2 linked regions of the Homo sapiens genome follow. The protein of the gene in region 2 purifies or fractionates together with the protein of the main gene of each other region. This does not show direct contact. Each region holds a gene or a part of one and is shown on either strand. Other genes may lie near its edges.

Region 1 (3,753 bases), on a different chromosome or scaffold from region 2:
GCCATTGTATGTTGGCGTTGATGATGATAAAGCGAATGCAACAGTGGATGGTCTTGAACAGGTACTTTTTATCAATAACTGAAAACTGTAGGGATCTTACTTGGTGTTTTTATGTAATTGTTGGAAGGATCATTCAGAAAGCAAATGGGTTAATGAACTTTTAAAATGCTGTAGGTGAGGCATGACAGTTTACACACTGTGTTTATCAGTGCTCTTGATGAAATTACACAAGTTAGGAAATGGAAAATGTCCACTTGGTTCATTTGTATCTGTCTGCTTAAACGCTTTCTAGGGATATGTTGTTTGTCCTTCTGAAAAGAGATTCCTTCTGCTCTTTACATTCCTTAAGAAGAACCGAAAGAAGAAGCTTATGGTCTTCTTTTCATCTTGTATGTCTGTGAAATACCACTATGAGTTGCTGAACTACATTGATTTGCCCGTCTTGGCCATTCATGTAAGTGATGATGATGAGCTCATTGAAAACAGGGTATGCTTATTAAATCCTATAGATTGTAGGATTGGAGGTATTGCCCTCTCCTGGAAACATTGTTCTGAGTAGTTTGATCACCACTAGATGATGGATCCTGTGTGGGGGAGCGCTGCTGGGTGTGGAGGGGTATGAGGACTTTCGAAGAGTGCAAGACACCATCCTCCTTGAGGGGCTTGCGGAACAGTTGGGGAAATAGGACATAGGCCAAGGGATGAGCTCGAAATAGGGTAACAGTTCCACAATTTGGGGGTTCTACTGCTAGTCTTCCTCAAGATTCCAGCTCTAATGGATGTTTTTATTTAATTCTAGGGAAAGCAAAAGCAAAATAAGCGTACAACCACATTCTTCCAGTTCTGCAATGCAGATTCGGGAACACTATTGTGTACGGATGTGGCAGCGAGAGGACTAGACATTCCTGAAGTCGACTGGATTGTTCAGTATGACCCTCCGGATGACCCTAAGGTAACTGGCATCTTTGGAATATCTTCAGAATGACTCTGCATTAAAAGTTCACTTATTCTCCCAGTTCCCTGACGGAAACTGCATTCCACATTCAAGGTAAAGATCCCTACTATACAGTGACTGCAGTATTTCTCTGGTATTGAAAAGTACTTAAGGCTTTTCAGGGCTCAAACGGGCTGTGCCAGAGGATTGAAAAGGATCAGTGGGACTTAAGTTATGAAAATGAGATCCTTGGAATGATCTCTTAAGAACAGCAGATGCCTGAAGGAAATAAAATTGCTTAAGGAAGTAGATAAACTTCTGTAGTATATGTGGTAGAATAAGCTTCATTGAGAAGTATTTTCAACAAACACTGGATTAAAGCCGTTTTGATGATGAAGCACACATAATACTCATTTTATTAGATCGCTGTTAATGCAAACATCATGTCCAGCCTTTTTTTTTTTTTTTTTTTTTTTTTTTTGGGCCTCAATCATTGGCCTATTGGGGGTGATGTGCACAGAGCGATTGCTGGCCCAGCTTTGTGGGGGTGTGGTGAAGGTGTGTGTGGCCCAGCACCGTGGGACTACACCATCTCAGTACAGACATGCACATACTCAGGATGCAGATACGCAAATGGGCTCATGTGGAAGTCACTGCGTTAACTCAGATTTTCTTTCTCCACCAAAGGAATATATTCATCGTGTGGGTAGAACAGCCAGAGGCCTAAATGGGAGAGGGCATGCCTTGCTCATTTTGCGCCCAGAAGAATTGGGTTTTCTTCGCTACTTGAAACAATCCAAGGTAAAGATCTGTACTTGGAGAAAGATTTCTCTTGGTGTAGGGATTGTTAGCAAGCAACATTTCTACATGTGTCAGAGGAGTCTCGAGTCTGGCCAGTGCTGTTACAACCATTCTTATGGCAATTAAGCAAGTAAGGTTTTATGTACTTCTAGCCCAAGAAGTGAGCACAGAAGGAACTGCCCACATGGCTCGGCTTTCTAGCTCTGTTACCCAGCAACACCTCTGTGTCCCAGCCTCTCCTTTCCTGTTCCCTCCAGCCCTCTTTGAAACCTTCTCCACTCCTTTGAAGCTCCCTCACACCTAGTCATCTCTGCTTCTGCTCCCCTTCTTTCCTCTTACCTCATGTGAAGCAGTGGGGAATCCTTGTTCGCTCTAGCCTCTGCCTCCTCCCCTGCCCTCTGTCTCCTATTCATCAACTCTTGGCCTACAGTCTCTTCCTTGCGGTTGGCGCTTTACCATCTCAAATTTCTCACTGTAAAAAAGTAACTTCAACCTTAAACCTGTTCTTCTACCCCTGCCTGCAGGAGCTACTGTCTGTTGCCTTTCCTCAGTCAGCCTTACTGGAAAAATGGCTTATATTCTTGCCATTTACCTCCCTCTCAGTCCCTAACCAGCCTAATTTGGCTTTAGCTTTCTACTATCACACCAGAATTGAATCCATCAGGACCCTAAGTGGCCTCTTCATTGCTAGGCCATGTGGGGGATGCATATCAGGCCTTCTCCTGCCTGACATTTACATCCTCATTGGCCTTTCTGGCATAGTCTTGATGATAGGCTTCCTCTACCCTGTAACTGCAGGCAGTTCCCTGAAATTGCTCTACAGCTTTTGCACACTTTGTCCAGAATGCTTGGTTTCAGCTCGCCTCTGTCTTTGCTGGGAAGCCATCGCTGATCTCCTGCCTCCTTGTTCCCACAGCACAGGTGCTCATCAGGTTGACATTTCTTTCTTTCTTTCTTTTTTTATTATTATTACACTTTAAGTTCTAGGGTACATGTGCACCATGTGCAGGTTTGTTACATATGTATTCATGTGCCATGTTGGTGTGCTGCACCCATAAACTCGTCATATACGTTAGGTATATATCCTAATGCTATCCCTTCCCCCTCCCCCCACCCCACGACAGGCCCCGGTGTGTGATATTCACCACCCTGTGTCCAAGTGTTCTCATTGTTCATTTCCCACCTGTGAGTGAGAACATGCGGTGTTTGGTTTTCTGTCCTTGCAATAGTTTGCTCAGAATGATGGTTTCCCGTGTCATCCATGTCCCTACAAAGGACATGAACTCATCCTTTTTTATGGCTGCATAGTATTCCATGGTGTGTATGTGCCACATTTTCTTAATCCAGTCTGTCATTGATGGGCATTTGGGTTGGTTCCAAGTCTTTGTTATTGTGAATAAACATACATGTGCATGTGTCTTTATAGCAGCATGATTTATAATCCTTTGGGTATATACCCAGTAATGGGATGGCCGGGTCAAATGGTATTTCTAGGTCTAGATCCTTGAGGAATCGTCACACTGTCTTCCACAATGGATGAACTAGTTTACAGTCCCACCAACAGTGTAAAAGTGTTCCTGTTTCTCCACATCTCCTCCAGCACCTGTTGTTTCCTGACTTTTTAATGATCGCCATTTTAACTGGTGTGAGATGGTATCTCACTGTGATTTTTATTTGGATTTCTCTGATGGCCAGTGATGATGAGCATATTTTCATGTCTGTTGGCTGCCTAAATGTCTTCTTTTGAGAAGTGTGTGTTCATATCTTTCGCCCACTTTTTGATTGGGTTGTTTGATTTTTTCTTGTAAATTTGTTTAAGTTCTTAGTAGATTCTGGATATTAGTCCTAGCCAAAATTGACAAATGGGATCTAATTAAAGAGCTTCTGCACAGCAAAAGAAACTACCATCAGAGTGAACAGGCAACCTACAGAATGGGAGAAAATTTTTGCAATCTACCTATCTGACAAAGGGCTAATATCCAGAATCTACAGGTTGACATTTCATTACTTATCTTTCT
Region 2 (3,753 bases):
AGTCTCCATAATAAGGTAGCCTCTTATTATTGCCTGCCAAACTATTAAAATGGCCTTCAAACTGATCACTAACTGCTGTCAAATTACTTAACTCAAAGCACAGCTCAGATTTTGTCGTTCCCCTTGTTTAAAAAGACTTTCAATGAACTTGAATTGGTATTTGTACACCAATGGTCACGGCAACACTATTCACAATAGCCAAAAGGTGGAAACAAATCAAATGCTCATTGATGAATGAACGGATAAACAAAATGTGACACATACAATGGAATGTTATTTAGCCATAAAAAGAAAGGAAATTCTGACATGTACTACAACATGGATAAACCTTGAAGACAATTATGTTAAGTAAAATAAGCCAGACCCAAAAGCCTTATTCCACATACACAAAATGGTATAATTCTTTAAAATATGCTTCTATTTATATGAGGTACCCAGAATAGTCAAAATCACAGAGGCAAAAAGTAAAATAGTAGTTACCAGGGGTTGGGGACTGAGGGGACAGAGGAGTTATTGTTTAATGACTATAGTTTCAGCTGGGGATGATGAAAAAGTTCTGAAGACAGATGGTGGTGATGGTTGCACAGTGATGTGAATGTACTGGATGCCACCAAACTGTATATTTAAAAACAGAGAGTAAATTTTACGTTCCGGATATCTTGCCACACACAGGCACAAAACTTCGATGATTCCTTATTATCTGACTAACAAAAGTACAAATTACTCATCTTAGCATCAAAAATCCTCCAGAGTAAGCCAAACTCTTTCTAGACTTACCTCTCATTAATTCCACTTTTGTGGTAAATTGAATATTAGTTTAATCATGTTAAGTTATGGGGAAGGCTGAATTATATAAAGAAAACTAGTAATTTTCAAGGTTTAATAAGCTATTTTGCATTGTGAAACTCCAAAAGGGCCTAGGAACAAATAAATGAACTTGAAAAAAAATGTATTCAATTAGATTATTCTTACCTATGTTGATCAAATTTAATGACTTAATGGTATTATACTTACAGTGAAAAAAGAAGTCCCACAAAAGCGAGTACATATTCCTCGTACAAAGCCTTCATGTGCTTGTATTGTACGGATACAATTCCGCTGAGTTAGATTCCAAATTCTAACCTATGATAAGGCATACCAGGAAATTTCAGTGAACTATAAATGTAAAATGTTCAGGATAAATTCAACACTGACAAGGCTACGAATCACTCTACTGGGCAGCTAAAACCAAAATCCTTTGGATTAAAACAATGCAATGCATATGGATAAGTATACTGATGAGCAAAAAATACAACCTGACAAATACTCTGTTGATTCTAAAGTGTTACAAAACTTTTTCACTTGCCATAGTAGGAAATTAGGTGTTGACAACATCTGTGAAAAAACTCATACTTAAATACTTTAATTATAAACATGATTATTTAATTTACTGTCAAATTGATCCTTAAACTACTGCATTTATAATTTCTTAGGTTTAAAGAAGAAAATACTAAACAGTATTCCTAACGAAATTTAGTCTTGAGAAGTAAATTGAAATCCAATAAAGTAAAACCTACAGTAACTAAAAACTAAAGGGAAAACATTTGTAATATAACTACTTTTAGTTGAAAATATCATCTAGATTGACACTTGCCTCTCCATCACACGCCCCAGAAAGGACAGTAGCCAGCTTCTCTGGATGCTTTGCCAAGCAATTGACTCCATCACGGTGACCATCCAGCGAAGCAAGGAATGGTTTTGCAAATACTCGTTCCAGTTTGGTAGCATTTAAAGCTCTTATATATTCTCGTGGGACCTCAAAAGGATGTAAAGCAGGATCATAGTTTCTTGGAACTGAAATAAGAATGATCCTTCTTAATAATTCACACTTAATATTTCCTGCAGTCTTCCTCAGCTAATCACTCTGTTATTCAATAAGCATTTAGTTAGTGACATTGTTCTATGCCTAACACTAAGAATACAAAAGTAGAAGACCTGTTGTTCAGAAATCTTTCTGAAATTACTGGAAAATCATGGGATGCATACATCTTGCAAAACAATTAGACCCTAGGTATATATACATGCAGCATTTCCTTTTTTTTTTTTTTTTGAGACGGAGTCTTGCTCCGTCACCAGGCTGGAGTGCAGTGGCGCAATCTCGGCTCACTGCAACCTCCGCTTCTCAGGTTCAAGCAATTCTCCTGCCTCAGCCACCCGAGTAGCTGGGATTACAGGCGCATGCCACCACGCCCAGCTAATTTTTCTATTTTTAGTAGAGATGGGGTTTCACCATATTGGTCAGGCTGGTCTCGATCTCGTGACCTCGTGATCCACACGCCTCAGCCTCCCAAAGTGCTGGGATTACAGGCATGAGCCACCGTGCCCGGCCTCCCTTTTATATGTCCTAGTACCCTCTTCAACTGGGTTGTAAGTGTTCACTGTCAGGGCTTCCAATACACTTTTCATTTGTACTTCCTTATGCCTAGCACAGTTTCTGGGACAAAATATGTGCAAGATGTTTGCTCAACAGAACTCTAAGCTTCCTGTAGGGCAGGGAACATTATTAATCTCTGGTGCTAAATACTGTGCTGATAGACACACGAAGTTGTGATTATGATGATATTATATAGCTATCATTTACTGAGCACTTTCTATGTTTGTTTACTTACTTAAAAAAGACTCACATAAGAGTTCAAGTGCCAGGCGCTGTTCCAAAAACCTTAACCGTTTAATCTCCACAGCATCCTATGTGTTAAGTTCTATTACTATCTCACACTTTATTGATGGGAAAACTGAGGCATAAAGAGGTTAAGTAACTCGAATACGACACGGTGGAGCCAGGATTCAAACCAAGGCAGTATGGCTCCAGAATCTATGTTTTAACTGTCCTGATACGCTGCTAAACACATTGTCTTGGTTAATAATCACGCTTAGGGCCGGGCGTGGTGGCTCACGCCTGTAATCCCAGCACTTTGGGGGGCCGGGACGGACGGATCACGAGGTCAGGAGATCGAGACCATCCTGGCTACCACAGTGAAATCCCATCTACTAAAAATACAAAAAGTTAGCCAGCGGTGGGGGTGGTATGTGCCTGCAGTCCCAGCTACTCAGGAGGCTGAGGCAAAAGAATCACTTGAACCTGGGAGGTGGAGGTTGCAGTGAGCCGAGATCGCGCCACTGCACTCCAGCCTGGCTGACAGAGTGTGACTTCATCTCAAAAAAAAAAAAAAAAAAAAAAAAAAAAAAAAAAATATATATATATATATATATATATATATATATATATATATATAATTATGCTTAGAAAGTAATTTTAAGCTCGTATGTCTAAAAAAACTCAGTGAGTAAAAAGTAAATGCATCTTCTTACCCCATGACTTCATCCTGCTGTTTCTTTCTGACTCCCTGGTAATGGTGTTATATCTAACATTCAACAAAGCTCTAGCCTAGGTCATTCTTATGTATTCCATCTTCCATATTCCCTACTACCAAAACTCAAAGTCCTACTCATCATCTCTTTGCAACACTTACTCATCTTTCAACTCTCTATTTCTAGTTTTTTGTGTTTTGTTTTTGTTTTTGTTTTGAGATGCGGTATCATTCTGTCACCCAAGCTGGAATGCAGTGATATGACTATAGCCTACTGCAGCCTCAACCTCCAGGGCTTAAGTGATCCTCCCACCTTAGCCTCTCACCTCAGCCTCCCAAGTAGCTTGGACCTGAGGCATGCACCACCATGCCCCATTAATCTTTAAATTTTTTGTAGAGACGGGGG

The links. Proteins that work in one complex are often made in the same cells at the same time.
Region 1: the proteins of DCAF13 (region 2) and DDX18 purify together in Homo sapiens (affinity purification with mass spectrometry; 2 studies listed by BioGRID, with this or other methods). This does not show direct contact.

What each region holds. Positions count from the first base shown.
Region 1 is NC_000002.12:117,824,648-117,828,400, forward strand, and holds part of DDX18 (ATP-dependent RNA helicase DDX18), read left to right. Parts: coding exon 1-61; intron 62-292; coding exon 293-454; intron 455-799; coding exon 800-952; intron 953-1,621; coding exon 1,622-1,735; intron 1,736-3,753. UniProt on the Homo sapiens protein: ATP-dependent RNA helicase that plays a role in the regulation of R-loop homeostasis in both endogenous R-loop-prone regions and at sites of DNA damage.
Region 2 is NC_000008.11:103,418,344-103,422,096, reverse strand, and holds part of DCAF13 (DDB1- and CUL4-associated factor 13), read right to left. Parts: intron 1,834-3,753; coding exon 1,634-1,833; intron 1,123-1,633; coding exon 1,015-1,122; intron 1-1,014. UniProt on the Homo sapiens protein: Part of the small subunit (SSU) processome, first precursor of the small eukaryotic ribosomal subunit.